Regions from separate parts of the Homo sapiens genome. Here region 2 is linked to region 1. Evidence: fine-mapped expression QTL. A gene starts in region 1. The other region holds a variant in brackets. All regions are shown on one strand. Distances are between the middles of the regions.

Evidence for each region. PIP is the estimated chance that this variant, and not a neighbour inherited with it, causes the effect. A credible set is the group of variants that fine-mapping cannot tell apart.
Region 2: its variant is the best candidate, but not a certain one, in a credible set for the expression of OTX1 in whole blood (TOPMed, PIP 0.50).

What each region holds. Positions count from the first base shown.
Region 1 is chr2:63,049,617-63,052,521 of GRCh38, reverse strand. It overlaps OTX1 (orthodenticle homeobox 1), which reads right to left and starts at 1,692. Exons shown (of 5, transcript NM_014562.4): 1 at 1,625-1,692; 2 at 1,205-1,273. RefSeq lists a silencer at 1,667-2,326 and enhancers at 2,443-2,905, 2,554-2,905.
Region 2 is chr2:63,320,619-63,323,523 of GRCh38, reverse strand. The region is part of intron 12 of WDPCP (WD repeat containing planar cell polarity effector); the gene reads left to right. Among named protein-coding and RNA genes, the nearest start is that of WDPCP, 270 kb to the left of the region's middle. RefSeq lists an enhancer at 1-11. The variant T/C (reference allele first, on the strand shown) is at 1,621.

The DNA.
Region 1 (2,905 bases):
ACTTGGTGCCCGGACGGCAGGCCGCCCAGAGCATGAGGCGTTGTTTCATTTTGTTTCACGTGTTTTTGAAAAGGTAGAGACTACAAAGGGCCAATGTGGAGGGCTAATTGCACTTCTTGTCCACTTAGACACTTGGTTCCTTTAAAGGTCTCCAGGGCTGCGCCCCTGCCCCAGATCCCGCAATCACCACTCCAGCTGACCTCTCTGTGCCCAGCCACTGAAAGATCGCTGACGCGAAATCCCACCGCACCTCAACCGCAGTAACGGGCCCAGGCTTCGCAGAGGGCCAGAGGACGCCGAAGGGGCCACTGTAGAGGGGGGCGACCCCAAGATGCGGCCTGAGGTCGGGAGCGCCTCAGCTGCGGCCAGCGTCCTTCGTTGCCAGCGCGCACCCGGCCTTCTCTCTGCCCAGTCTGGGCTGCGGACCGCAGGGTCCCAGCAGGGGGTGAAGGGTGACTGGCCTAGCACCTCAAAGGGTCTCGGGGATTTGTGAAGCCGGAGGGCAGCAAGTCGCGTGCTGCCATCCTTGTAGCTGAACCCGCGGCCCCAGGACACGGTCGAGAACAGAGAACTAGGCCTCAGCGGCGTAGCCCACGCAGACCCGAGCTGGGAGGTCGAAGCCTCGCCCCCGCCGCTGCCGGGAACCCGGGGTGCCACTCTCAGGGGTCAGGGAGGGGCGCTGGAAACTGGGCCTGGGGCCCTGGGGGGCCATCGCTACACCCCGCTTAGCGGGATCGCTGTGAAGCAAGCCAGGGACTCGGGCTAGGACGTTCAAGGAGAGAAGTTAGAGCTAAAGAAGCTCCCCCCAGCCCCGTTCCCGCCCCCGTCTTCTGGGACCCAAGACCTGGGCTGAGGGAGTCCAGCTTGTAGGAAGGGGACCGGAAGGGAAGCAGCCAGGGCTCTAGGGCCGAAGGAAAATGGGACTCAAAGCTGCGACGGCTTTGCGAAGCTGCAGCGTGAGTTTTCAAAGACTTTCTCCAAACTTAGCACTTCAGCTTGGTTACTTCGGAGGAGGCGGGGGAGGGGGCTGCGGGCCGCGACAGCGCCCCGGGGTCCTCGGCTCACCAAGAGGGGAGCCAGGCCGCTCCCACAGCCCCGACCACCTGCTGGGGACCGGGGAAGCCGGGATCCATTTGAGGAGGGGGAGATAAGGGTAACCAACGCGCTCCCGGAGTCCGGGGTGGCCCCGCGGCTTTCTCCTTACCTGCCCTCAGCTGCCGGGGCCGTTCACCATCTACCTGGATCTCTCACAGAGACCCGCCGGGCAGCCAACCTGCAAAACAGAGCAGCACTGGAATTACCCTGGCGGCTGGTCTAGGACCCCCAGGTTTCTTTCTTTTCCCAACTTCCTTCTTCCCACCTCTATCTTTTTTTTCAATGGCTTTGTGCGTGTCCTTCTGGGTTTCACTTTATTGCACAGACACTTTGTTTGCTAAGCCCCACACGTTCTCAGGACATTGCCTCGCCTGGGATCGCGCCGAGGGGCCGCAAGGGGGGGAATTCGAGGGGCAGAGTTGGGAGGTGGCTCGGCGTTGCCGCGGCACTCCCGGTGCAACGTGGAGGCAGTGGGGACTGGGAAGTCCTGCAGAGTCACTTTGCAAACTAAATAAATCAAGCGATTTACCTTGTCGGAGTGGCTTGTCTTGCTCGGTTGTTTAGGTGATTGGAAATGTAGCCTGATGAAGATTGATCACCTTTCTACTGCCCTCCCCGGGTATGTGAACGCGAGGCGAGTGCGTAACGGGGCTAGGCCGCCAATCGGGGGCCCCGCGCGGGCTGAGTGACAGGGAGCCGGGCAATGGCTGCGCGAGCCGGGGGTTACCTCCGCGCGCCCCCGCCCTCCCCCGCCCCCCACACCCCGCCCTCCCCGCCCTCCCGCCCCGCCCCGGTCGCGCGCTAACTCCGGGACTCGGCTGGCAAAAGCGGCGCAGAGCTAGGCGAGGAAGGCGAGCGGAGAGCCCGAGTCCTGGCCGCGGAGGGGGCCGTGGGTCTCCAGGCCTGCCCTGGGCGCCCCCGCCCTTCTCGCGCTCTCGGCGCTCCGGAGGGAGTGGCAGGGAGGAGGCGAGGTGCTGGAGAACCGGTTCCTTCGCTCTCCCGCGCGCTACAGGGCTCAGCCGCTCGGGTGTGGGCGCCAGGACCCGGGGGCGGCGGGCTGGAGGAGCCCGGGCCTCGGCCCCTCTCCCGGCGCCGCGGGCCCCAGCGTTTTCTTCCCCGGCGCCGCCACCTGAGACCGACGCCGCGGGCTGCTCGTGCCGGCGCAGGCTACTTTGCAGAGCGCGGGAGCAGCTCCGGGCGTGCAGATCTCTCCTCGGCCCCTCCGGACTCTCGCGCCTGGGAAGAGCACCCACTGGGAGGGCGCCGCCACTTACCTGCTTGCTCGTCGGCATCTCCCGGGGTTCCAGGTCCCCACCAAGGGTGTTTGCAAGTCTTAAGCGCTTCTACTGAAACGTTGGAGCCCAGCGTCCTCTTCCCCTCACACGTACACCCTACTTCTTAATTGAAACATTTTGATAGGAAAGTTTCTTTTTCGCTCTTTCTCTCTCTTTCTTAGACTGCCTCTAACAGGGACTTTTTGATGGAAAATGTGGCCACAGACCCCTGCCCTCAACTTTTTTCCACATGCTGCGTAAGGATCCTCCTTGAGGCGATTTCCCCGGATTGTTCGTACGGGCGAAGCCCATTTCCCACCCGAAAAAACTTCCCAAACACGTCTACCTGGGTGGACTTTTAAAAGTGCAAAAAAGAGTTTTCGTTCCAACTCTAAGCTAGGCGAATCTTTTAAATGGCACCTCCTCCTGAAAATTAGGCACTTTATTCCCTTTCGAGGAATTTCTACCCCTTGTTTCTAATCTCCCCCACTCCCCCACCCCGACAGGCGGGGTAAAAAGTTTGCACAGGATTAAGT
Region 2 (2,905 bases), 270 kb before region 1:
AATAGGAAGGATACAATTTCTGAGGCTCCCCATATTCTAGCTTCAGGAATAGCTTTTGTTAGGCCTGCTAGTCTGAGGAGGGATCCTAAAATTCCAGATAGTCCCCCCTACGATGGGGCTTTGGGCAAAAATTACGTCTTTCTGATTGGTGAGCCTGGGTGCCTACAGAAGGTAACAGAATCCCAAATTTATACTAGAAATCATTCTTATAGGAGAAACTAGAAAAGCACCAGAGACAGGGAGTGGTTTTTAGAAGCAGGACTAGCCTGGAGAAGAGAGGCAAGGGGAAGTTTGTCTGGCAGGCGTTAGGACCCAGGGGGCAATGGTCAGGGTAGATAGAATAGATGGGCAAGTCTCGCTTGGGCGACATGACTTTGAGAGTTCCACTCATGGCCACAGGGTCAACCAACTTGTTGTTGGGACCCCGGAGCTGAATGGCTTTCCTCTCTGTCGACCCTGGGCTCAGTCCAGAAGTACAGGAAAAGCGGAAGCTGGTTCCAGGCAAACCAACGCTACCAACTCTGAAGAGTCAGGGATTGTTAGAAAGGCCTTTCCCAGAAAGCCTGACACCTGTGTCTTTAGTCTGGCAGCTGCGCTAGTAGCTTTTAACTGGCCGACAGGTGCCTGGTATTTAGACCCCGAATTCTAAGGAAAAATAGGAAAGAATAGCAAGCGAAAGGGGTCCGATGGTACTCACCACTTGGCAATAGGCGATAGTCTCACTTCTTGGCGATAGGCGATGGTCCCATCTGGGTCGCCAAAATGTGTCTGGAATTGGTGGGTTCTTGGTCTCGGTGACTTCAAGAATGAAGCTGTGGACCCTTGCGGTGAGTGTTACAGTTCTTAAAGATGGTGTGTCCAGAGTTTGTTCCTTCTGATGTTCAGACATGTCCAGACTTTCTTCTTCTGGTGGGTTCATGGTCTCGCTGACTTCAGGAGTGAAGCCGCAGACCTTCGCAGTGAGTGCTACAGCTCTTAAAGGTGGCACATCTGGAGGTGTTTCTTCCTCCCAGTGGGTTCATGGTCTCACTGACTTCAGGAGTGAAGCTGCAGACCTTCACGGTGAGTGTTACAGCTCATAAAGGCAGCATGGACCCAAAGAGTGAGCAGCAGCAAGATTTATTGTGAAGAGCGAAAGAACAAAGCTTCCACAGCATGGAAGGGGACCCGAGCGGGTTGCCACTGCTGGCTCAGGTGGCCTGCTTTTATTCCCTTATCTGGGCCCACCCACATCCTGCTGATTGGTCCATTTTACAGAGTGCTGATTGGTCCATTTTACAGAGAGCTGATTGGTCCATTTTGACAGAGTGATGACTGGTGCATTTACAAACCTTTAGCTAGACACAAAGTGCTGATTGGTGCATTTACAATCCTTTAGCTAGACAGAAAAGTTCTCCAAGCCCCCTACCTGTTAGCTAGACACAGAGTGCTGATTGGTGCATTTACAATTCTTTAGCTAGACAGAAAAGTTCTCCAAGTCCCCACCCAACCCAGAAACCCAGCTGGCTTCACCTCTCAGTAATAGCTTCAGTGGTGTCTACTTCCCTCCAAATTAATCAAGTTGTATACATTAAATATGTACAGCTTTTTTTGTGTCAATAATACCTCAGTAAAGTGATA[T/C]GTAAAAAGAAGACAATAGAAATAAAGAAAAAGGAGCTCAAGAGAATTACATTAATTATACATACTTGAGTTTATAAAAATGTAAACATTCCTATATACAAAACAAATATGAAATCAAAACAATTTTTTAAAAAGTAAAGCAAAGTTGCCATATGGCAAAAAATACAAACTAAGCAGGGATTATTATATACTGTATAACAAGACAGAATTATGCCACAGATTATTAAACAGAACAAAGAAAGTCACTCTACAATGCTGTGGGCTACCTTTCATAATAAAAAAAAGTTATATCCGTGTACCAAATAAAATGATAGGAATCTTCGTAAAGCAGAAATTGTAGGAGATATAAGAAGAAACAGACAAAAGCAAACCAGTAGTTAATTTGCACGTAACATTTTCAGTCTAAGATGGGCCAGAATGACAAAAATGAGGAAATAAATCAGCAAAGTAACAATAAGGAGCTCTCATGTGGGTGGATACACACACACACACACACACACACACACACACACACACAGAGTGTATATATATGTCTATACACACAAAGTACATATCAAAATGTATATATATATATATATACTCTGATAATAGAGACACACTTCAGTACTTCAGACTGATATTGTTCTATAATATCAGTTACATGAATATAGAGATCATCTATTACTTTATTTGTTTAACTTTCCATTTGTTTATCTTGCTGATTGAGGTGTGCTAAAAGCAACTGTTAATATAATTGTCTTCTTTATTTCTGTCACCTTTTTTTTGTTTCATATATTTAAGACACTCACAGTCATGATTGTTGGGTCTTCCTGATGAATTGGTGTTTTTATCATTATGAAATGTCCCTCCTTTAATACTGTTTTTTAAAGTATATTATATCTGATAATTATTGCCATTCTAGCCTTTTCATATTTACATTTTTCTATTTATGTACTTTCAAACTATCTGTGTTTGTATATTTATAGTGGACTTCTTACAAACAGCATATATTTGGTTCTTGCTCTTTTATGACAGTCTTTGTCTTTTAATTGAAATGTTCAGTTCATTAACATTTAATGTAATTATGGATGTAGTTGCAATTCAGTCTGTCATTTTGTTTTTTGTTTGTACTAATTTTTACTAATTTTTGTTTCTTCACTCCTCTTTTCCTTCCTTCTTTGGATTATTTTAATATTTTCCAGATTTTTTATTTATTTGCTTTTTCAGTCATACCTACTTGCACTGTTTTTTTAGTGGTGCTGTAAGGGTTACATTTATATCCTTAGTGTTCTACAGTCCACTTAGA